Linked DNA regions of Homo sapiens. The protein of the gene in region 2 purifies or fractionates together with the protein of the main gene of each other region. This does not show direct contact. Each region holds a gene or a part of one and is shown on either strand. Other genes may lie near its edges. The genes, in order: FAM83B, PAK5, ARHGEF2, DBN1, TBC1D2B, TANC2 and GAN.

The links.
Region 1: the proteins of PAK5 (region 2) and FAM83B purify together in Homo sapiens (affinity purification with mass spectrometry; one large-scale study listed by BioGRID and IntAct). This does not show direct contact.
Region 3: the proteins of PAK5 (region 2) and ARHGEF2 purify together in Homo sapiens (affinity purification with mass spectrometry; 2 studies listed by BioGRID and IntAct, with this or other methods). This does not show direct contact.
Region 4: the proteins of PAK5 (region 2) and DBN1 purify together in Homo sapiens (affinity purification with mass spectrometry; one large-scale study listed by BioGRID and IntAct). This does not show direct contact.
Region 5: the proteins of PAK5 (region 2) and TBC1D2B purify together in Homo sapiens (affinity purification with mass spectrometry; 2 studies listed by BioGRID and IntAct, with this or other methods). This does not show direct contact.
Region 6: the proteins of PAK5 (region 2) and TANC2 purify together in Homo sapiens (affinity purification with mass spectrometry; 2 studies listed by BioGRID and IntAct, with this or other methods). This does not show direct contact.
Region 7: the proteins of PAK5 (region 2) and GAN purify together in Homo sapiens (affinity purification with mass spectrometry; one large-scale study listed by BioGRID and IntAct). This does not show direct contact.

What each region holds. Positions count from the first base shown.
Region 1 is NC_000006.12:54,943,185-54,945,599, reverse strand, and holds the end of FAM83B (protein FAM83B), read right to left. Parts: 3' UTR 501-2,415; downstream 1-500. UniProt on the Homo sapiens protein: Probable proto-oncogene that functions in the epidermal growth factor receptor/EGFR signaling pathway. Activates both the EGFR itself and downstream RAS/MAPK and PI3K/AKT/TOR signaling cascades.
Region 2 is NC_000020.11:9,829,077-9,832,576, reverse strand, and holds part of PAK5 (serine/threonine-protein kinase PAK 5), read left to right. Parts: intron 1-3,500.
Region 3 is NC_000001.11:155,947,548-155,951,047, forward strand, and holds part of ARHGEF2 (rho guanine nucleotide exchange factor 2), read right to left. Parts: coding exon 3,282-3,500; intron 2,936-3,281; coding exon 2,752-2,935; coding exon of another isoform or gene 2,722-2,751; intron 469-2,721; coding exon 395-468; 3' UTR 1-394. UniProt on the Homo sapiens protein: Activates Rho-GTPases by promoting the exchange of GDP for GTP.
Region 4 is NC_000005.10:177,456,635-177,460,134, forward strand, and holds part of DBN1 (drebrin), read right to left. Parts: intron 3,107-3,500; coding exon 2,969-3,106; intron 2,635-2,968; coding exon 2,464-2,634; intron 2,074-2,463; coding exon 1,424-2,073; intron 1,124-1,423; coding exon 1,021-1,123; intron 870-1,020; coding exon 799-869; 3' UTR 1-798. UniProt on the Homo sapiens protein: Actin cytoskeleton-organizing protein that plays a role in the formation of cell projections. Required for actin polymerization at immunological synapses (IS) and for the recruitment of the chemokine receptor CXCR4 to IS.
Region 5 is NC_000015.10:78,011,712-78,015,211, forward strand, and holds part of TBC1D2B (TBC1 domain family member 2B), read right to left. Parts: intron 1,607-3,500; coding exon 1,112-1,606; intron 1-1,111. UniProt on the Homo sapiens protein: GTPase-activating protein that plays a role in the early steps of endocytosis.
Region 6 is NC_000017.11:62,972,735-62,976,234, reverse strand, and holds part of TANC2 (protein TANC2), read right to left. Parts: intron 1-3,500. UniProt on the Homo sapiens protein: Scaffolding protein in the dendritic spines which acts as immobile postsynaptic posts able to recruit KIF1A-driven dense core vesicles to dendritic spines.
Region 7 is NC_000016.10:81,356,462-81,359,961, reverse strand, and holds part of GAN (gigaxonin), read right to left. Parts: intron 3,178-3,500; coding exon 2,960-3,177; intron 2,153-2,959; coding exon 2,031-2,152; intron 1-2,030. UniProt on the Homo sapiens protein: Probable cytoskeletal component that directly or indirectly plays an important role in neurofilament architecture.

The DNA.
Region 1 (2,415 bases), on a different chromosome or scaffold from region 2:
GGCCAACATGGTGAAACCTCATCTCCACTAAAAATACACAAATTAGGTGGCAGGTGCCTGTAAACCTAGCTACTTGGGAGGCTGAGGCAGGAGAATCGCTTGAACCCAGGAGGCTGAGGTGGCAGTGAGCTGCGATCGTGTCACTGCACTCCAGCCTGGGTGACAGGGCAAGACTTCATCTTGAAAAAAAAAAAAAAAGTAAAAAATTATTTAAAGTAACCACTATGTTACAGTATAATAGAAATAAAGAGAATGTGTATATATAATATTTTGCTTAAAGGAAGAGAATCGCCACTGAATTTCAAATATGAATAAATTACTATATAAAATATAATTGGTAATCAAAACAATGTTTTACATGTGATTTCCAAGTTCATGGAAAAAACATTTAAAAATATGTACACATCTAAATTCCTGATTAGAATAACTAAGTGAAAGACTGAGCTTGAATGCAGAAATGCAGAGTATGAAGATTTAAAAAAACAATAGCTTACAATATATTGATGTTTGTACAAAATTATTTATTATTCATTTATTGATCTAAAAACAAAAGTTCATTTGGAAGAATATTTCTTTATAATATCGTACATACATAAAATGTTGAGCTACTCAGGAACCTGAGGCTGGAGGATCGTTTGAGCCCAGGACTTGGAGTCCAGACTGGGCATACTAGTGAAAACCCATCTCTTAAAAAAGAAAAGTTAACAAGTTGACTCTTTGGTTTATCATTTTATCCTTTTGTTTTAAATATTCTAGAACCCAGGATCTACCTGAATATCATGATAAAGTTATTTTAAAAAAAACAGCAACGTACATGTCACATATATAGTCAATGTAAAGCAATTCTACTTTGCATCCCTTAGCCACAGGCATAAGGCAGAACACAGATATTTCTGTGTTCTGTGAATATCTGTGGAATGATACTTGAATATGTGGATCTTGAGTAAAGCTGAATTCATCCAGAATTAAACTTTTTGCATTATTTAGGTGACACTAGACATCATCTTGATTAAACAAGATATTTGCTTCCACAAGTGTAGACTGACAACATATACCCATACCTGAACACACCATGTCAGAATTATGGCTAATCCCAAACTTGTAATAGAGGGATATCTGTGTATTCGGGATACAGGGTCACTTGCAGTATTCTCTAGCCATCTGCCAAGAACTACTTTGAAATTATACCCATTTTTCTTGTGTTTCTGCTTAAAAACTAATGTACAGTACCATGTAGACAGTAAAAGCTGCATTACCAAACTTTAATATCAATGTACATCAAAGTGATATTATCCGCCCCCCAATATTAATATGGGGAAAAAAAGACAGAAAGTATATGGCTTAAAACTATTTCATCCACAAACTGTGATGGTGTCTGTTTAAAACTTAAACAGTAGCTGTACATTTTTTGAAGTATTATATTCTTGCTCAGTCTTATCCCTGGAGAGGTTTTGGCCACAGAGACTTTGGAAAGTTGTTATGTACATATTCTCAAATATAGATATTTTTGAAGAAAAAAGATACAAGAAAAACAATTTTTAAAAAACGCAGAGAAAAATAAATCTGCTGTGCAAAGCCTAAGTCACCTGTCAGGGGATGATGAAATAAAGCATTCTGTATTCCTCAATTCCACTGAAGAGGAAGAGCTCACAAACTATTTAAAAGGATGTTTCTATAAGCTATCTACATGTCCTGAAATTAAGGAGATTTCTGTACAAAAAGGCAACAGGCTTTTGGTTGTAATTAAACATGATTAAACTTCTACTCTTTATATAATTTCAGTTTTAAAGTTACATTGCACTAAATTTCAGGGCTTTCCATTTCAGAACTGCCTAATGGCTCATTATCCTAATTCCCTATCCAATACTAACAAAGAATGGGTAATAACAAAGTCAGTCTAGTTTGGTTAACTGTGGGTTCTGGGCTTTGTTAGGTTTTCTTTTCCTGTCATATTTTCTCCTGCTATGTTTTCTTTTTCATGGTTTCTAAACACTATGGAAAATTATTTTAATGATATAGATATTTTATACCATTATTTAAATTATTTTAATGAGACAATATTAAAATTTGTCTGAATCTTGCATTTTTAAAACAACAGTATACTGCTCCACACAGCAACTTAGAATATATTAAGTAATATATTTAAAGTGATGTACAAACACTTCACACTTCTCACAGGATGCACTGCTTCTTGAACTCTGTTCTTTGTGAATGAAGCAAAGTCAAGTTAAAGTCTCTGGAACAGATATGGAGCTTATACTTCATTACTGTAAGAAAGACAAAGGGTATCTTATAATCTGAATATCATCCTCAAATCATGGAAGAACTAGCCCAGTAAAACTTCTCATTTTCCCAATGGTATTCTTACAAAAACACTATGCAGTCATATCATATTTGGCACAACTTAAAGAAGAG
Region 2 (3,500 bases):
TGTCTGCCAGGCACGGTGGCTCATGCCTATAACACCAGCACTTTGGGAGGCCAAGGCAGGTGAATCACTTGAGGCCAGGAGTTTGAGACCACCCTGGCCAACATGGGAAAACCCCATCTCTACTAAAATACAAAAAAATAGCTGGGTGTGGTGGCACACTCCTGTAATCTCAACTTCTTGGGAGGCTGAGGCAAGAGAATCACTTGAACCTGAGAGGTGGAGTTTGCAGTAAGCCGAGATCGCGTTACTGCACTCCAGGCTTGGTGACAGAGTGATACTCTGTCACCATTAAAAAAAAGAAAGTTGTCAAAACTTTTAAAAGTTTAAATTATTTGACACACTATTCCTCTTGTTTTTTATTTTATGTTTTCTTTTGTCTTTGGTAAGGAAGTAGATGCAGGTAAAATTGTGTATTATAATATATTTCATAGTAATAAAAATTAAAAAGAACCTATATAACTAGAACTTGGGAGCTTGGTAAAGGTATTTAAGGTCCCAAGATAACAGACTATTATATAGGTATTAAAATTAATTATTTTGAAGATTATATAATGACGTGAAACAAACTTCACCACAATTTTAAGTGGAAAAAAACAAAATGCACTACTACATATATTGTATTGTTAATATGTGTTTTGTGAAATGAAAACATCATGCAGGTATATTTAAAAAAACAGAACAAAATTAAAAAGTTAGGCAATCTCTGGGTGGTGGAAATATGGATGGCTTTTATTTTGTTACACTTTTCCAAATTTTAAAAAATGTAGTAGGCCGGGCACGGTGGCTCACACCTGTAATCTCACCACTTTGGGAACTCGAGGTGGGTGGATCACTTGAGCTCAGGAGTTTGACACCAGGCTGAGCAACATGGCAAAACCCCATCACTACAAAAAATACAAAAGTTAGCTGAGCGTGGTGGCGCACGCCTCTGATTTCAGCTACTCAGGAGGCTGAGGTGGAAGGAATGTCTGAGCCCATGAAGTGGAGGTTGCAGTGAGCCAAGATCGCACCACTGCACTCCAGCCTGGGCGACAGAGTGAGGCCCTGCCTTGGAAAAAAAAATTAGTCAATGATGTGTTGTTTTATGAATCAGAATTAAAAAATCCACTATTTTACAAATAAGCAGTGATATACATTTAGGTTGTAATTATTCATTTATGTAACAAACATTCATTGATTATCTCTTGTGTCAGGGGCTCTGCCAAGTGTATCAGCAGTGACTCTTAGATTGCATGCAAATGAAAGAAACTCTGCCTAACTCCAGCAAAAGGAATTTACTAGAAGGATATTAGGTAGCTAAAAGAATTGCCAGGAATGTGGCGGGGGATGGGGAATCCCAAACACACGCACGCGCGCACACACACACACACCCCCCAAAACAGCTTGGAAGCAGATGAAGCTAGTCAGTTCCAGGTCTAGATATCAGGCACTTTGGAAACAGACTCCAGCCAAGAATGACTTGTTCAGAGCTTGACCACAGTCCACTGGCTGCTATGCTTGGGGTTCTTCCCCCACACCCAGCCCACTGGGCATGGGATAGGAGGGGGGGTGCCTTGATTAGTAGGCCCACTACCCCTTTCCAATGAAAGAAACACAAGAGATGTGATGGGTGCTAAAAAGCCAAAACCAAACCAAACCAAACCAAAAAAAGACAACAGAAATGCCCATTACCCTAGGACTTAGGGGTAAACAGGGTTGAATACCACTCATCCCTCTCTTTGCATCCCATAGGAAACATTTGCTATGACATGGGAGTTTAACTTAAGGTTCATGGTCTAATGTTCACTGTGATGTGCATCATTGAAGGTGCAATGTGGGTGCCCCACACAGAAGGTACATTTTCCTCTTGGAGCCAGTAGTGACATGTTGGGAAGAGTGTGGATTTTCAGCCTGATCCTTATATACCGGCAGGAATTTTGAAAGAAAGGTCCCATTTTCTCAGGTAAGAGAAAATCCTAGAAAGGTATAATCTGAAAGAAACAATGAAGCAGAAGCAAGAGGTATAATATGGAAATAGATCAGGCACCAACACAGGTCTAGCCTTCTTTTCTGAATGATCTTACATTCAGCAAGCCCAACAGTCATGTTTGAGTTTAGTTCACCATGAATACCAGCCTCTTGGTTCAATTAACTTTGGTTGATAAAGTTATTATTAACTAAATATTAAAAGATCATACTTAGATCAGTGCATATTCTTACTGCAGTTCTCATGATAAATAGGAAATGTCTGTGGCTGTCCAGGTAACTTAACAATCATGTTGTTGCTTTTATAACTCTTTATAAACTTTTCTGTGAAGAAAGATGACTTGTAAGTGGAAGAGAAAAAAGAGGTAATTGTTCTTCACTTGTGCTTAAAACAGGACAGAGAAAATAATCTTAAATTAGCAAGACAGGTCCCTGTCCTGGTCACTGTATATTAGAGGGCTCTGCTACTCTGCACTCCAACTTCTCAGCACCTGGACAGCACTGCTCCTCTGCAACAAAGACCCCTTGAGCTCTTTGCCTCCTTCTGAGCCTTGCTCTGCATAGCTGGGACCTTGGAATTCACTGCTCATGGGGCTCCTGGGCCCAGTGGGGGTTGAAAAAAGACTGTTGGTGGGAGGTGTAAATGGAGCTTGGACTTGTGGACTTTGTAGTCTCCACACAAGTGCTGGAGGCCATGGTAGAAAGAGAAAGGGATGGGGAGGGGAGCAAAGACTGGGTCTCCTTGCTTTGCTATGTTCTGGAATTTAAGTACTCTAAATTTAAATCTGGCTTCTACGTTGTTATGAAGGCATATTTGTTAAGCCAGGAAGATATAACACATTTAAATTAACATTTTTTTAGCTTGATTTATAGTATTTAAATATTGAGATCTGTAACATGTGGGACTCCTTTTGTACTCTTGTCTCTCAAATGTTAGGATCAGGCCTGCTCAGGTAACTGTTTTAGAAAGGTAACACTCAATTGTTGAGACACACATGCATAATTAGCTAATCATGCAACGGCAATGTAGATTATAAGAAAAATAGATTATACTTTTTGTGACTATAGCTAACATATTGAACAAGATGTGTTAAGCCCACATCCAAGTATTTTACCTATGTATATTAATTAGTCTTCATAAGAACACCATAAAATAGGTCACTCAAGGCAAAATATCATGCAGCTAGATAGAGTCAAGAAGCTCTGGATCATCTGAATCCAAAGGCCATTGTGGTATACAACAATTCAATGGATAAGAAAAGTTTTATCTGAGGTCCTTGAACCTCCGATAATTTAAAAGTCACTAGATTAATCAACCCACTTTGACTCTCCAATACTCTCAAATCCTCAGATTCAGCATTTCTGTTCGTGCAGATTTCCTCATGAAAAGGGAAAGTAAATGAATGGACTGCCTTGCAGTGTTTGGTATTATGATTAACTGAATGTTCCAAACCAAAAATCAATATTTGGTTGTTTGTATAAGAAGCACATTTAACTTACATTTTTAAACAGATGTCCAGTTGTGGGATTTCCTT
Region 3 (3,500 bases), on a different chromosome or scaffold from region 2:
GCAGCTGCGTGGATGAGCCTGAATATACCCCAGTAGTGTTCAAGGACAAGGCCCTCTGATCCCTATGGCTTGGTTCCCATGTCCCTGGTCCTTTAAATCTCCCCTCTCCCCCCATAACTAATAAACAATAAATAAATAAATTTTCCTAAAGTTGCGGGAAGAAGGCATGAACCACTGGCATCTGTGGTGTAGCTTTCGGATGTCCCAGGGGGTGTTGTGGCCTAATTCCCCTAGCTTCTTAAATGGCCCCAGGTATCCAAGGATCCCAAGAGCTGGCAAGGACAATTTGCAGTTCTTTCAAATGTTCCCTCATCATTGGCAAATTGGAGTCCCCAAGGTTAGCCCCCTCAGTAATGTTCTTCAGTGGGGCACGGGGCAGGGGGGAGGGGCCCCCTTAGCTCTCGGAGGCTACAGCCTCCCCGTCGCGGCTCTCCGTCTCCTCCGGGATGTCCTGCATTCTGGTAAAGTCTGAAGGGGGACAGGACAAAGCCAGTGAGTTAGCAGAGACTCCCATGAGGAACTGTACCCCTAGACTAATGCCTCCCCATCTGCAGGCTCAGGGGGCTCTGGGGCTGTGAAGGGATGACAGGGTTCTGTAAATTCTTGGGTGAGAGGAAAACCTTTGGCAACAAAGTAAGCAAGGTATCCATACCTAGGTACCGGATACACTTTTACAGTATCCAAAGATACAATTTGATTAGGAAAATACAAAATACTTTAAGGTTAAAGCTTTTGGTAATTTTTTATTTCATGAACCAACTGTAAAAACTTGAAGTTCTTTGAAACTTTTTTTACTTTAAAAACTGGCCCCATGGCTCGTGCTTATAATCCTAACACTTTGGGAGGCTAAGGTGGGAGAATCACTTAAGGCCAGGAGTTGGAGACCAGCCTGGCCAACATGGTGAAACCCCATCTCTACTAAAAATGCCAAAAATTAGCTATATGTGGTGGCATGCGCCTGTAATCCCAGCTACTCGGGAGGCTGAGGAACAAGAATTGCTTGAACTTGGGAGGTGGAAGTTGCAGTGAGCTGAGATTGTGCCACTACACTCCAGCCTGGGTGACAGAGCAAAACTGTCTCAAAAAAAACAAAACAAAACAAAACAAAAAACTATACCTTCCCAGGCACAGTGGTATGTACCTGTAGCCCCAGCTACTTGGGAGGATCACTTAAGCCCAGGAGTTTGAGTCCAGCCTCGGCAACAGCACAAGACCCTCTCTCTAACATAAAAAATTTTAGAGTGAGATCCTCTGTCTGGGTCTCCGGGTCTCTTTCTGTCGCCCAGGCTGGAGCAATCACGGAGTACTGTCAACTCAACCTGCTGGGCTCAAGTGATCCTCTCACCTCACTCTCACTCTCCGTAGCTAGGACTACAGGCTCACTCCACCACACCTGGCTAATTAAAAAAATTTTGGGGGACCAGGCACGGTGGCTCACACCTGTAATCCCAGCACTTTGGGAGGCCAATGTGGGTGAATCACCTGAGGCCAGGAGTTCGAGACCAGCCTGGCCAACATGGTGAAACCCCATCTCTACTAAAAAATACAAAAAAAATTAGCCAGGTGTGGTAGTGCATGCCTGTAAATCCCAGCTACTCGAGAGGCTGAGGCAGGAGAATCACTTGAACTCAGGAGGTGGAGGTTGCAGTGAGCTGAGATTGTGCCACTGCACTCCAGCCTGGGTGACAGAGTGAGACTCCATCTTAAATAAATAAATAAATAAAATAAAATAAAATAAAATAAAATAAAATAGACCGGGTGCAGTGGCTCACATCTGTAATCCCAGCACTTTGGGAGGCCAAGGCAGGCGGATCATGAGGTCAAGAGATTGAGACCAGACTGGGCAACATGGTGAAACCCTATCTCTTCTAAAAATACAAAAATTAGCTGGGCGTGGAGGCATGTGCCTGTAGTCCCAGCTACTCGGGAGTCTGAGGCAGGAGAATCACTTGGACCTGGGAGGCGGAGGTTGCAGTAAGCGGAGATCTCACTACTGTACTCCAGCCTGGCGACAGAGTGAGAATTCCATCTCAAAAAAAAAAAAAATTTAGCCAGGCGTGGTGGCTCATGCCTGTAATCCCGACACTCTGGGAGGCCAAGACAGGTGGATCGCGAGGTCAGCCGTTCAAGACCAACCTGGCCAACATAGTGAAACCCCATTTCTACTAAAAATACAAAAATTAGCTGGGCGTGGCGGTGGGCGCCTGTAATCCTAGCTACTTGGGAGGCTGAGGCAGGAGAATCGCTTGAACCTGGAAGGCAGAGGTTGCAGTGAGCCAAGATCACGCCACTGCACTCCAGCCCAGGCAACAGTGCAAGACTCCATCTCAAAAAATAATAATGAAATAAATTAATTAAATAAAATAAAAAAATAAATAAATGAATTTTTTTTTGTAGAGAAGGTGGGTCTCACTATGTTGCCCAGGCTGGCCTCAAAATTCTGAGCTCAAGCGATCCTCCTGCCTTGGCCTCCCAAAGTGTTAGGATTACAGGCCTGAGCCGCCATGCCTTTTTAAAAAAGAATCTGTTTTTACTTCTAAAGGTTGGGAATCACCAACCAGTTGGAGGAGAGAGGCCCCTCCTGCTTCCTAGACTTCCACCACCCATTCATCATCAGACAAAACAGGAAGTCCCTCCCTAGAGTTACTACAAGCCTCACAGGTCAGTTAGGGCCCATTTGGAAGCCACAGCCCAATGGCCTGTACCCAGGCTGCACTCTACCTCTGGTCCATGTCTCCGCCAGGGTCTCACCTCGTGGACTGTGGGGCGGAGACAGACGGCTGCTACCTTCCTCCTCGCTGCCAGTGTCAGGGTCACTGCTGTCTTGCAGCCGCTCTTCGGGGCTCCCCAGTTCCTGCCTCTCTCGGTCCTCAAAGTTTCGATGGACAGAGCGAGTAGTGACAGGTAGATCCAGGCGGTCAGTGCCTCGGCTGGGCTGTGGACAGTGGGCAGGAAGAACAGCAGGTCAGGGACTGAGTAGTGTGAAGATTGGAGGTTCTGCTTGGCTGAAGGCAGCAGCTCTCCCCCCTGGGGCTCACCCATGAGTCCCCTTCAGGAGATCCACCACCAACTGGCCTCTTTCAGCACCACGACCCGAGTTAATTTCCTCCACCCCTGCACCCATCTACATTTCTTTTCAGTTCTCCAACCAGTATCTCAATATCCTTCAAGTCAGTTGACTGATTGCATTTGGGCTCAAATCCCCAATGGCCCAATTTCTTTCGGGCTCCATGGACCCTTATGTCCACCCCAGGTCCATTCACCACTGCAGGCCACCTTACCTGTGGGGGGTTGAAACTCAAGTACAGGGCATCGCCTGCGGGGAGGCTGCGCCGCCGAGGATCCACAGGTCTGCGGGCCCAGGGGGCCTCAGCTGGGAGTGGCTCGGTCTGGCCCAGGGCGGCCAGCTGCCTTCGAGCCTCTTCGGCCTCACGCTCCAGCAGTGCCCGGGCCTGCTCACTCTCCCGGAGCCGGGCCTCCAGGCTGCCAGCTTCGGTTGC
Region 4 (3,500 bases), on a different chromosome or scaffold from region 2:
AGACATGAGCACGACCCGTTACAGAAGTTTGTGCTTTCCAAAAAAAAAAAAAAAAAAAAAAAAAAAACAGTTACTAAACGTGAAAAAGGAACCCAAGCAAAGAGGAAGGAGTTGGGGAGGGGCCACCAAAGCCCCTGGGCCCCATCCATAGCCCTGACCTGAACCGCGCCTAGGGCCTCCAACCTGGGACCTGCCCGGCAGGAGACGGGGGGTAGCCGAGGGGCCCCAGCTGGGCCTGCTACTTCCTTTGGGCCAGACAGGAAGGGGTCAAAAGAAGGGCGGGGAGGGGGTCCCAGGGAGCCAGAGCCCACGAGCCATTTATTGCCATGTTTTAAAATTCGTGCAAAATATCTGAAGCCCTGGACAGAGAATACAAAGTGATATTTTCCCAAGAAACATAAAACTAGGAAAAGAGGTGGGGGACATTTTCCCACCAGAGCTCCCCCCACGCCAGGCCCCAAGCAGGGTGAGGCCTCCAACCCGGCCAGCTGAGCAGGGAGGACTAAGAGCTACAATCTGGACCAGGGAAGGAGGGGTGGAATTTGCAACAGCGTCTCAACTACCAACGAGAGGAAAGCCAGTCAACTGTACAAGTCTCCTATCAACTTTTTAAAAAAAGAGAAAAGCTGTAAAAGTCAGGCCCTGTGGGTAGGGAAGCGGCCAAGTCCCCAGCCAGGGCCGGAATCCGGAGTGGGTGCCAGGCGGAGCTGCTGCGAATGCAGGCACGGCGGGCCGTCTGGCCAGAGGCTGATGCAGGTGGGCGGCCTTGGCAAGGGTAGCCTAGGGCTGGCGCCACCGCTAATCACCACCCTCGAAGCCCTCCTCCTCTTCTGGAACTGGGTCTGCATCCCAGCATGTGATGTCGATCTCTGTGGCGTTAGAAAGGGAGAGGAGTTAGGGACCTAGCAGACCGCTTGTGTCCCCAGCCTCTGTGAGCGGTGGGTAGTGGTGGGGTGGCTACCCACACTCAAATCCAGCCCCCGCACCCAAATTCCTCCCCATCATCCAGCCCAGTACTACCTGGAGGCTTGTTGTAGAACACAGGAGGCGGAGCCTTGGCACAGAGCTCTTCCGATTGGGCAAACTCCTCCTCCTGTGATTGACTGAAGTACCCCTCACTGGCCTGCAGGGGAAAGCATCAGGTCACTTGGCCCCACCCAGCAGGACTGGGGCTGACCTATCAGGCCTGAGCCCGTTTCCCCAGCAACCAATGATTCCATCAGTGGTTGCCAGGGAAACAAGGATGCCTGCCTTGGGAACAAAAGCAGAGCCGGCCCAGGGAGGGAGGGTGGGATGGACTTCCCCTCAAATAATGTGGGTCACAGAGAAGGGGGTACTGGTGCAAGCATGAGGAATGCAGGGCCAGCACCCTGCTCAGCCCCCACTCCCTCCCATCCCTCCCACCAGGCAGTCCCTGCCGCACCTGGGTCCCCTCCTTCTGGGTGGTCTCGCCATTGGTTAGCAGGTGGGGCTCCGGCTCCTGCTCTTGCTCCAGCTCCTCAAGGGCTGAGGGCAGAGTTGGGGTCTGGGGGGCAGCCAGGGACTCCCCTTCCACTTCCTCTGGGTCACAGAAGGTGGCTGGCGGCTCAGGCAGCTCATCAAAGTTGAGAAGGGTGGCACAGCCTTCGCCTGCTGGCAGCAGTGGCTCCGGAGCCACCTCATCCAGCAGGGGCACCTCTGCCAGGGTGACCTCAGTACCCGAGGGTGGCGTGGGGGCCCTGGGCTCACCCTGGAGTGTGGAGGCCCCTTCCCCGTTGCCAGGCCATAGGTCAATGAGGCTGGTGGCGGCGGGGGGTACGTTGTTGGCAACAGTGGTGTCAGCAGTGGCAGTGTCAGTTTCAATGGTGTCAGCTGCATCGTGGATCTCCGTGGCGTCAGCTGTGGCAGGCTCCACGGGAGCAGCCAGGACAGCCTGCTCTGCAGACTCCATGAACATCAAGTCCTCTGCAGGGCTGCCTGGCCCCCGGGGAGGCGCCTGTGCCTGAGGGGGCTCCTCCATGGGGCCGGCCCAGGCCTGAGGGGCTGCTGCTCTGGTCTCCTCACTGTCTAGGATGGGGCTGGGCTCCTGGGTCTCTGTCACAGCACAGGCAGAGGAGATATGTAACCGGCTCCCCTCGGGGAGGATGGAGACCCTGCCCACCCACTAAGGAGTGAGGGAGCCAGGGACTTCCATGCAGGTGTCCCACTGCCCCCTTACCCAGTGACCCCAGTGACTTTAAGCCCCTTGGCAGCTCCGGGAGGAAGGCCAAGGCCCGATTCCCACTTGAGAGGGCGGGTGCTAAGCTTTAGAGAGGGCAGGTCTGACTGTACACCAGGGCTCCTCCCCACACAGCCGCCTCCAGGGCAGTGCAGTCTTGGTGATGGGTGGCCCAGATCCCTGGAGAACGGTTACCATGGCAACCTGGGGCTCCCAGCCAGGGACTGATGATGGGAGGCCTGGTGCAGGTAGCATCCCTCTCTCACCTTGGGCTGGTGGGGGTGGCGGTGGCAGTGGTGGAGGCTGCGAGGAGGTGACCTCATCCAGGGCCCGCTCTATCTGCTCAGCGACAGGGGTGGAGGCGGTGCTGGAGTCAGACGGGCTCCGCGTGGGGATGGGAGTGGGCGCCATCCTCCGGTGGCTGTCCAGGTGGCTGCCTGTGGAACAAACCCCAGGTGGGTCAGTGAGGGCGGGGGAGCCGGGTGAGACAGGATTGTCCACCTTGGGGCCTGGCCAGCACCTCCTCTCTGGAATCTGGGTGGGGGCTGGGAGCTCTCCAGCCCCACCAGGGGCCAGACTACAGCTCCAGACCCTGTAAGCTAGGCCCCTGGAGGCCAGTGCCCCATAAGGCCAGGGGCAAGAGGCAGGCAGTGCCTGCCCTGGGGGCAAACACCAGAGATCAGCGGTCAGACTGGGGGAGTGAGGGCGGGGGGCTGCTGGGAAGCGGGGCCCTCCTTACCACCCCCGCCGAGGCCTGGGGCTGCTACCTACATGGGAGGGAGGAAGAGAGGTTTGGGGTGCGGTGGCAGGTGATATAGGGAAAGGGAGTCCGTGGAGGGGAGGAGGAGGAAGAGGAGGAGGAGGAAGGCCCACTGTCCGATGCCTTTATGAAAGGGCAGTACGGACGACCTGCCGAGAGAGACAGACAGAGAAAGAGACAGAGGACAAGAGAGGGTCAGTCTCCCCCACCCCTGCCCGAGGCCTCTCCCGCCCCCAGGGCCTGGCCCTGGATGTCCAAGCTGCCTTCAGCCAGGGGCACAATCAGCCAAGCCAGCCGCAGCCTCACACCAGCCCCAGACACACAGCCAGCCTGGGAGCAGTACAGCAGGGACGGCCTGTGGCGGGACCCCAGCATGGGGCAAGCACACTCAGACCAGCAGACAGGGCAGGGAAGAGCTTCAGGAGAGGCGGAAGCAGCACACTGAGAAGCGGAACGGGGACACCTGGGTGCAAGCTCCGGGAGGCTCCCTCAGGCCCGGGGCAAGAGCCCAGCACGCATGCATTCCGGCCTTCCAGGCCAGAC
Region 5 (3,500 bases), on a different chromosome or scaffold from region 2:
AATGCTGGCTCACTGCAACATCTGCCTCCCGGGTTCAAGTGATTCTCTTACCTCAGCCTCCCGAGTAGCTGGGATTACAGGCATGTGCCACCGTCTGGCAAATTTTTGTATTTTTAGTAGAGACAGGGTCTCACCATATTGGCCAGGCTGGTCTTGAACTCCTGACCTCAGGTGATCCGCCTGCCTCGACCTCCCAAAGTGCCAGGATTACAGGTGTGACCCACCGCACACAGCCAATTTTTTTGTAGGGACGGGGTTTCACCATGTTGCCCAGGCTGGTTTCAAACTCCCGGGCTCAAGCGATCCTTCCACCTTGGCCTCCCAAAGTGTTGGGATTACAGGTGTGAGCCACTGCACTGGACCTTTATCCATATTTTTAACAAGCCTGCTTACCTACTTTCATTACACAGAAATATAAATGGACAACTGCAAGGACAGCAGTAAGCAGAAAGCGCGCCAGCCAGGTAAGAAGCAGTCACAGCAAAGTCCAGTGACAGGAAGAGCTTTGTGGGGAGCAAACCTCAGTCCTCCTGAGGTCTTGTCCCATCCCTGCACAGCTCAGGAGGATGAGCCTACATCACCCAGAAAACATGAGAGGCTTTTCGGCATCCTCTGCCTATGGAAGTAGGGAAGTAGGCAAGACCTGTTAAAAGTTCTAGTTTAAAAGGAAACAAGTTTAAGTCCATGAAGGGCTAAGTTTCAGTCAGCTGAATAATTGTTTGGGGCAACCTCTTGATTCACAAAAAGATCCTGTATACTGCATAAACAACGGGTGACCACCAATTTCCACTCCATGCATTACAAACTAATAAAATCAAACTTCTGATCAAAACCCGAGTGCGATGAGAACAAACAGGAAAAAATGAGACTCCAAGTAGTTTCAAATGAATTTAACTCTTGTGTTCTTAATACTTTCTAAAAGCATGCTTTTTCTCTCAGTTCTTCTAGAACTGGGGATATTGTGTAATGAAAACTGGCTTGCTGCAACTACTTTTTTCTCTTAAAATATTGACTTTTCTTGGCCAACCAGGAAGGGAGGGAGCTGCCAGGCAGCACCGGTGCCTACAAGTTGCCTAATGGCAAATGGGAACATTTTGTGCTGTGCACCCACCTGTTTAGGCCTTGACAGTAGCCGATATCTGGATTCCGCCAGGAGAAGGCGAGGAGGACATTGCGTAACTTCTGTATGCCTTCTGAGGTGGGGCAGGAGTAATGTTTGTTGTTGGGCAGAGTTCGCAGCAAGTCCAGCTCAATCTGCTTGGAGGCTGGGTTCTGTTTCTCCAGCGCCTTCTGCAGCAAGGTCTGGAAGTGGCCAGGCTCAGTGTTGTCCTTGAACTTCCTGGTGTGACGGTCCACACACCACTTCCACACCTTGGAACGGTGCTCGTGGGGAATGCCCGCACGGATGAGGTTTTTTAACTCTGGAGAGCACATCATCTCCCTGTTCACTGTACTTGCAAAATAGTTTTCCCACTTGACCCCAGTGGAGACTTCCTGGTTTTCTGTGAGGTAGAGAGTCTTCAGATCCAACGCGCGGACCTTGGCAACCAATTTCTCTTCCTCATCATCCTCAGGTACAGTCCTGAACCCATAAATATCATATTCACTGTTGATAAAAACAAAAGGAAAAATTAAAATGACAAAGTTTTAGCAACAAAGACCAATGCAACAGAAATAGAGAGTCTAGAAACCAAATCAGGCACACGTGGTACTTTGAACTATGAGAAGCATTTCAAATCAGTGAGGATATAATCGACTTCTCAGTATATAAAGCTAGGAGGACTGGCTATCTATATGCAAAAATTAAATTAGATATCTACTTGACACTATACAGGGAAAAAAAACAATCCCAAACAGTTTAACACTGAAAATATGAAACGCATGGAAGAAAACGCAGGCAACAGCACAAAAACAAGATTGATAAATTTGGCTACATTAATATATGTGTATGTTTCTTTATCATATATATACACTACATATGTATAACTTTATGCTTAAAAATATCATTTTAAAAGATTAAAAAAAAACAAAGAATGTATTTATAAGCTATTAGGGATAAGGATGTTCACGTCCCAGTTATTGGAACCTGTGGCTGTTTTACATTACATGGCAATAGGAATGTTGTTAATGGAACGTTAATGCAGTTAAGACTACAGAACTTAAAACAAGGAGATTATTTGGGATATCTGGGTGGGCCCAAATATCCTCATGAGCCCTTCAAAGTGGAAGAGTCAGTCAGAGAAATGTCAGGCAGGAGAGACGGGAGGTGTGAGAGGGGCTGGACCTGCTGCTGCTGCCCCGAAGATGGGAAAAGGGGCCACAGGCCAAAGAATGCAGGGGGCTCTAGAAGACGCCAACCACAGCTGACAGCCAGCAAGGAAATAGCGACCTAGTCCTACGAATGACTGCAAGGAACTATATTCCACCAACAACTTAAATTATCCCAGAACCTTCAGAAAAAAATGCAGCCCTTAATTAAACTTGGATTTTAATCCAATGAGACCCATGTTGGGCTACTGACCTACAGAACTATTAAGTGACAAATTTGTGTTGTTTTAAGCCACTATGTTTATGATAATTTGTTGTACCAGTAAAAGAAAACTACTACAAAGGCCTTTCACACACTGCTGCTGAGCGTAAACTTACTCAAGCACTTTGGAAATCAGATCTAGCAAGCAGAGTTAAAGGTATGTATTTTCTATACACTAGGAATTCCACTTCCAGTCTGCACCCTAGAGAAACTCTCTCACGTGGGCACATGGGAATATGGACCATGATGGTCCTTGCATCACTGTAACAAGGAAAAATGGAAAGAACCTAAATGTCCTCCATGAGGGGAAGGAATAAAGACACCATGGTAGATTCATACAATGATGTTCTACAAAGAAGGTAAACATGCTCAGTCGTGTGCATTTGTAGTACCAGCTATTTGGGAGGCTGATGTAGGAGAACTGCTTGAGCCCACCAGGAGGTCGAGGCCAGCCAGGGCAACAGACTGAGAGACCTCATCTCTTAAAAAAAATAGCTCAGGAGTAACTTGTATCAACCTGGATAATTTCAGAAAATAATGTTGAAGGAAATAAGTTCAAAATGATATGTATCTGGGATTAGTATGTAAAAAGGTATCATCAGTCAGAAATACACACTGAAGTATTTTACAGGTGGAATGACGTGACGTCTGGCATTTGCTTTAAAATATTCCAGAAAAGGCTGGGTGCGGTGGCTGACACCGGTAATCCCAGCACTTTGGGAGGCCGAGGCAGGCAGATCACAAGGTCAGGAGATCGAGACCATCCTGGCTAACACGGTGAAACCCTGTCTCTGCTAAAAATACAAAAAATTAGCCGGGCGTGGTGGTGGGCGCCTGTAGTCCCAGCCACTCAGGAGGCTGAGGCAGGAGAATGGCGTGAACCCGGGAGGCGGAGCTTGCAGTGAGCTAAGATTGTGCCACTGTACTCCAGCCTGGGCAACAGCGCGAGACTCTGTCTCAAAAAAACAAA
Region 6 (3,500 bases), on a different chromosome or scaffold from region 2:
ACTATGATTTGAGATTTTATAGAAAGGATTAAAATTAATTTTTGTCAAGTTAGTAGTGTTCAAAAGAAATAGTCCAAAAAAAATGCATAAAAAGAGTAGGCCCAGCAGTATCTGAGTTTTTCGGTTTACAGTTATTCAAAAACTCTTTCTCTCAGCTTTTATCAAATACTTCACAAAAGAAAATTTAAGGATATGAATAAAATAAATCAGTATCCAAACTACCATGGGTTTCTAAAATGCCTTGCAAGGCTGAAAAGGAAATCAAGACAAGATAACAAAGAAAAGCTGGAGTGACAATGCCAGTAAAAAATTGGGAGGAGCTGGCATATATCAAAAAAGAAAAATTTAGGATACTTTCCACAGGCTAATAAAAATTACCATTTATTAAGTACTAGACATCGTCCTAAGGATTTTCACCAAGATATTTTTCATTTCATCATCATAAAAACCCTGTGAGATAGATTTTTGGCCCCTCATACAATTAGTGACAGAGCAGTAATTCAAACCCATTTTCATGATTCAAAACTCATAAAGTCATATTCTTTCCAATATATACTGGTCTCATCATTGGAATTTCTAAACTTACAACTGAGCAACAGTACTGTCATCCTATAATATAGGAATGTCTGAATAACAGCTTTCAAACAAAGTCTGTCTCTACATTAAAAAAAAAAAAAAATTAAAAAAAAAAGCCCGAAAATGGAAAAGCTGATTCTCTGATCCTGAGGCAGAATATGGGTGTATGTGGTTGGACGGTTATTTATGTGGTTTAATAAGTCTTCATTCCATAGGCCCACTAAAGCTATTTACATTCATTCACACTAATTCACAATCCCAGGGTGCCCTAGAGGATTCCATGGAATTTGAACAGAAATAGAATTACAGAGTACAATAAATATGTATCAAGTTTCTATAACCTATAACCTAACTAGCTGTGCCTTACCAAATTTCAGCAACCACAACTAGAAATTGTGGGATTCCTCCACCCAATGAAAGATTAGGAATAAAGGGCTAAGAAGTGACTACCTTCATTTAGGCAGACAGAATTGCCTGAGATCTGAGATTTGAAGCACATTCTCCAAGCATAAAATGACTAAATCACAATCTCTATATACCCACTCTCGTTTCCAAGTTCAATAACTATAATCTACTTATAAGGCTGGATTAACCAGGGGATTTCCATGGCAGTAAAAAACTGGGGCCATATTTCTTAATGTTGTCAATCTTTATAATCAGCTACGTCATCATATGATAATGCTAGCATGGTATTACAGACAAGGAAATAAGAATGGCTACCTGGTCCAAAGATCATCCATTTGGAATGACAAGTTTTCCACTATTATTGCTTACGTACTTTTCTTTATGAATTTTATGTCTGTAACATTGGCTGATATCTACGAAAAGGAATATATCAATCACTGCCTTTTCATAACACTTTGCCACATAAAGAAAACAGTAAAATCTATCATCATTGGCTTACTGAACTTCAGGGAAGTGGCAAATATTAATAGTATGGTACATATGTTTTTGAACTATATTTTTCCCAGGGGTAGAAAAAATATGTAAGACACAGGATTCTGAATTACAATTTTAGCTTTTAAGGAAGAATATGAAATTTCCATCCCCAAGTCAAAGACAATAGTAGTAAAATTAACAACTTATACATAGTAGTCAATAAATATTTAAATGAATGAATATGTTAATACACTCCATAAAAATACCCCAGTTTTTCCAACATAACTAATCCACCTCAACTTTTAAACTTTACACACAAGGTGTCTGCCTAACAAACTAATATACAAAATCAAGGTTTTTAAAAATATAACAATGATCTTTTATTGCAAAAAATGTATATGAGAAACTGAGATGTGAGCGAAGAAAAACATTCTACTACATGCTGTTCTCCAAACTCCTCTCCACCTTTTAAAGAAAAAAAAAGGAATAGAATCTTGAAACACACTTTGTGAGAGTCTTATTCAGTGTTAGATGTAATAAGGGTGTCATCAGAGAGGTACAACAGGGGCCTGTGAGATAAATCATTACAAAAGCAAAGTGGCCAATCTTCTCAGTAAATAGAAGGAATTATGCCCTGCGAAGCCCTTCAAAAAAGTAGCTGGTATATCTCCAACTCATGATATTCAACGAACACTTAATGGGCACAGGCTATGTAACAGACCAAGGACTGACAAACTTATTCTCTAAAGAGCTAGCTAGTAAATATTTAGGCTTTGCAGGCCGTATGGTCTCGACAGCAACTAGTAGTCAACTCTGCTGCTGCACCCAATACCCAATATGTAAATAAGTGAATATGGCTAAGTTCCAATGGAACTTTCTTTATGGACAATGAAATTTGAATCTCCTTTAATTTTCATATGTCATGAAGTATCATTCCTCCTTTGATATCTTTTCAACTGCTTAAAATTGTAAAAACCATTCTTAGTTTGCAGGTCATACAAAAACAGACAATGGGCTGGATTTGGTCTATGGGCTATAGTTTGGCAACTCTTGCATTGTACAAAGAAAATCATTTGGCTAAAGTTCAGAGAATCTTCTCATCTTCCTCTTGCCACCAGCAAACATAAAAAAGAACAAAATCTGGTTTATCTTTAGGGTTAGTTTTAGTTACAGTCCAGGACTTACTCTGAGTAATATTTTAGATGGTGTGTATATTTCTCTAAACCTACCTCCTGGTGCCTAAAGTTTCCTCTAATTCCACAATAAGAGATGAGGTTTCAAAGGCATAACTGAGATAACGGTCAACAATCCTCACTCAATAAGTAGATAATGAGCACCTACTATGTACTAACTATACTGATGCTGAAAAGATGAAAAGTCACAGTGCCTGCTTAAAAGCTCACACATTAGTGATGAACCAGTCATATTAAATATTTAAAATATGTTACGGCCGGGTATGGTGGCTCATGCCCGTAATCCCAGCACTCTGGGAGGCTGAGACGGGCCGATCATTCGAGGTCAGAAGTTCAAGACCAGGCTGGCCAACATGGCAAAACCCCATCTCTGCTAAAAATATAACAAAATTAGCTGGGCATGGTGGCACATGCCTGTGATCCCAGCTACTCAGGAGGCTGAGGCAGGAGAATCACTTGAACCCAGGAGACAGAAGTTGCAGTGAGTCAAGATGGCCGCCATTACACTCTAGCCTAGGCAACAGAGTGAGACGCCGTGTAAAAAAAAAAAAAAAAATGCGGCAACTACTATATACACCAAGTGCAAGGGGAGAATAGATAGAGAACATCATGCCCAAGCCCACCTGGAGGAGTAAGCAAAACCTTCTTCACTCGGAAGACATTGGGCTAACGCATGATGGCTGTGAAGCAGTTTGCCCAGAGAACAAAGGAGAGGGCAGGAGTAGTCCATGAAAAAAAGAACTTCATAAAGGCATGAAAAGGTAGGAGAATACTACATACTGAAGGAACCACACACAGTTTACTACCGCTAAAGCACTTTGAAGACAGAAGTGGCAGGCAATGAGTCTAAAG
Region 7 (3,500 bases), on a different chromosome or scaffold from region 2:
TTTTGGTTTCTGTGGTTTTATCACCCATGGTCAACTGCAGTCCGAAAATAGGTGAGTTCAGTAAAGTAAGATATTTTGAGAGAGACCACATTCACATAACTATTACAGTATATTGTTATCGTCGTTTTATTATCAGTTATTGTCGTTAATCTTTTACTGTGCTGAACTTAAACTTTATCATGGGTATGGATGTATAGTAAAAACACACAGTATGTACAGGGTTCAGCACTATCTGTGGTCTCAGACAACCACTCGGGGGTCTTGGAATGCATCCCTCATTGATAAGGGGGATCTACTGTACATATTTATTAGTGATAATGCATTTTAAAACTGTAAGAGTATGGAAAATGGAAAATGAAGAAAAACTCTCCTGAAGAGAACACAGGTACTGACTAACTTTGGACTTTGCTAACTTAATACAGGCTGTAATTTCTAAGGTAATCTTCCTAAAGGACTATTAACAAGAATGTAAGTCCCAAACTGGTAGAGAAGAAAAATTGAATGACAAAAAAACAGTCAAAATCAATTTTTAAAAAGGCAAAAAAAAAAAAAAAAACAATGCAGCCTGGACAAACGGAAGGACCTCCTCAATCACTCACTTCTGTTTCCATCAATTCCACTGTACACAGTCGCTCCTTCCATTGCTGGGTTTCTGAAACACCAATCCCTCTAGCAAACTTTCAAATATTAGTCATATAGGAGCCTTTGTGACAGACGTGTATGTGTGAAAATTAGGAATATGTGTATATATTTTGGGGGAAATGTAAGGGAGCTAATTCTGAGAAGATGCAACAGGGAAACTAGACCTACATCCTGCAGGCTATACTACTCTGTCCAGCTCTTCACTACTGACAATAACTAATAATTTTGGGACTCATAAAATGACTCCACTTCTATACTATGGTAGAGCCTTGGCCATTTGTATGATGCACTGTGGTACAGTATAGCTTTAAAAATATTATAGCCTGGGCAACATTGCAAGATCCCATCTCTAAAAAGAAAAATAAAATAAAAAATAAAATTTTAAAGATAATGTTGCTGGGCAAGCAAACACAATTAAATAAGGACTGCAGGAGGGCTGCTGACCACAATTAGGATGACATGAGATGACACTTATCAGGTGGACAAGGGAGCAGGACCACGGCGAAAAGACAGGCAGCCAGCAAAGGCAATGCCTCAATGGCTATCTTTTCTATCAGCTCCTTAAGGGAGAGCTTTGGATAAAGTAGAGCAGTTTTCAAACTTGTAAAGGTCAAGTAAAGCATTTTCCATACTAAATAACTTTAAGCCATTGCCTATATAAGTAGCATTTCCTAAAGTCTCATAACTTCTCTTTTTTTTTCTTTTTTTTTTGAGACAGGGTCTCACTCTGTCACCCAGGCTGGAATGCAGTGGTGTGATCTTGGCTCACAGCAGTCTCGATCTCCTGGGCTCAAGAGATTCTCCCACCTCAGCCTCCCAAGTAGCTGGGACCACAAGTGCATGCCACTATGCCTGGCTAATTTTTTTGATTTTTAGTAAAGACAGTTTCTCTCCTACATTGTCCAGGCTGGTCTTGAACTCCTAGGCTCCTCTCACTTTAGCCTCCTAAACTGCGGGGATTACAGGTGTGAGCCACCACACTCGGCCTTATATAACATATTTTATATAATTACATATTGTAATTCTAAGCTGCATGAATTTCAAAGATGGGACTACCATGGTGCAAAGAAACGCTGTGTTCCAGGTGTGGCCCTACAGCTACTTAGTGGTAAGCATCACTGAAGTTTGCTCTCCTGACATTAAGTCATCAAGTAACTGCTTCTCCAGTAGTTCTTAAAAGCAGCTATGTGCTGAAGATACAGAGATAATAAGGACTGACAGAAAATACGGTTTTCCTAACCACGGTCTCAGAAGCTAGAACTACACTAAAAATGTCATGTAGAGATAATAAAATTGTATCTTTAAAAGGCTCTGAGTCATTCTGTAAAACCTTGAGATTACACATTACTTGATCTGCTGTTTAAGGAAAATTTGCCACAGAACGGTACCTGCTGAGAGAACTCCATGGTTAATTCTCGGCATGCTTAAAGGGGCCAGTTCGATCCAAAGCTGCCTGTTAGGGTCATAGAGAGGGCACATGCATCGCATCGCTGCTGTGGGTTTCCGTGAACTAAGGAAGTAAATAAGTGATCAGTAGTTAATGTGCTTCATACAGTTCTTTTTATAAGTAGCCATCACTAGTTTTAGTTTACTAAAGAATATTTAAAACATTTTTTAAAAACCCTTGTGGAAGTCAGTGTGACGATTCCTCAGGGATCTAGAACTAGGAATGCCATTTGACCCAGCCATCCCATTACTGGGTATATACCCAAAGGACTATAAATCATGCTGCTATAAAGACACATGCACACGTATGTTTATTGCGGCACTATTCACAATAGCAAAGACTTGGAACCAACCCAAATGTCCAACATTGATAGACTGGATTAAGAAAATGTAGCACATATACACCATGGAATACTATGCAGCCATAAAAAAGGATGAGTTCATGTCCTTTGTAGGGACATGGATGAAATTGGAAATCATCATTCTCAGTAAACTATCGCAAGAACAAAAAACCAAACACCGCATATTCTCACTCATAGGTGGGAACTGAACAATGAGAACACATGGACACAGGAAGGGGAACATCACACTCTGGGGACTGTTGCGGGGTGGAGGGAGAGGGGAGGGATAGCTTTAGGAAATATATCTAATGCTAAATGATGAGTTAATGGGTGCAGCACACCAGCATGGCACATGTATACATATGTAACTAACCTGCACATTGTGCACATGTACCCTAAAACTTAAAGTATAAAAAAAAAAATCAAATGTAATTATGTTTTAGATACTGAAAAGCATTATGAATTCTTGTTTACATGGAACTACCTCTTCCCATACACCACTTTTCAAACAAGTCCCACCTCATACTTACACTCTCTCTTCTCCACCAACAGTCACGATGCACTCAGAGTAGCCCCGGGGTTTGAAGTTGGCCAGCATCGCCTCCCCTTGCTGCGGCTGGCTGAGCGGTATATTGCTACACTCTTTGACAATTTCTCGTACTAATGGTTCATTCAGCATCTGTTCCCGTAAATAACTGGAGTCCAACCCTGAAACCCACAGAGCTGACATAACATCCTTCATGTGGACCTGCAGAAGAGGGAAGAAAGATGGGGCGAAAACAATGGAAAATGCAACACATCATTTTTAGAATCTACATTTTCCACCTCATGGAAAACAAACTGTTAACACTCAGGTTATTACCAGGCAAGTGAGACACACTCGTGCTGCTTGAATATCTTCTCCTGGCCCTAACTGTCTACTTCCCAGAGTCTTGATAAGTAAAAGTTTAATTTTTAAAAATCATCAGTTTATTTGAGGTATCACTGTAAAAGTTTCAAGCAGCTTCCTTTACACCTTAAAGGATTCCCATTTCAATAGGAAAAGACAGGAAAAGAACCAGCTATAATTTG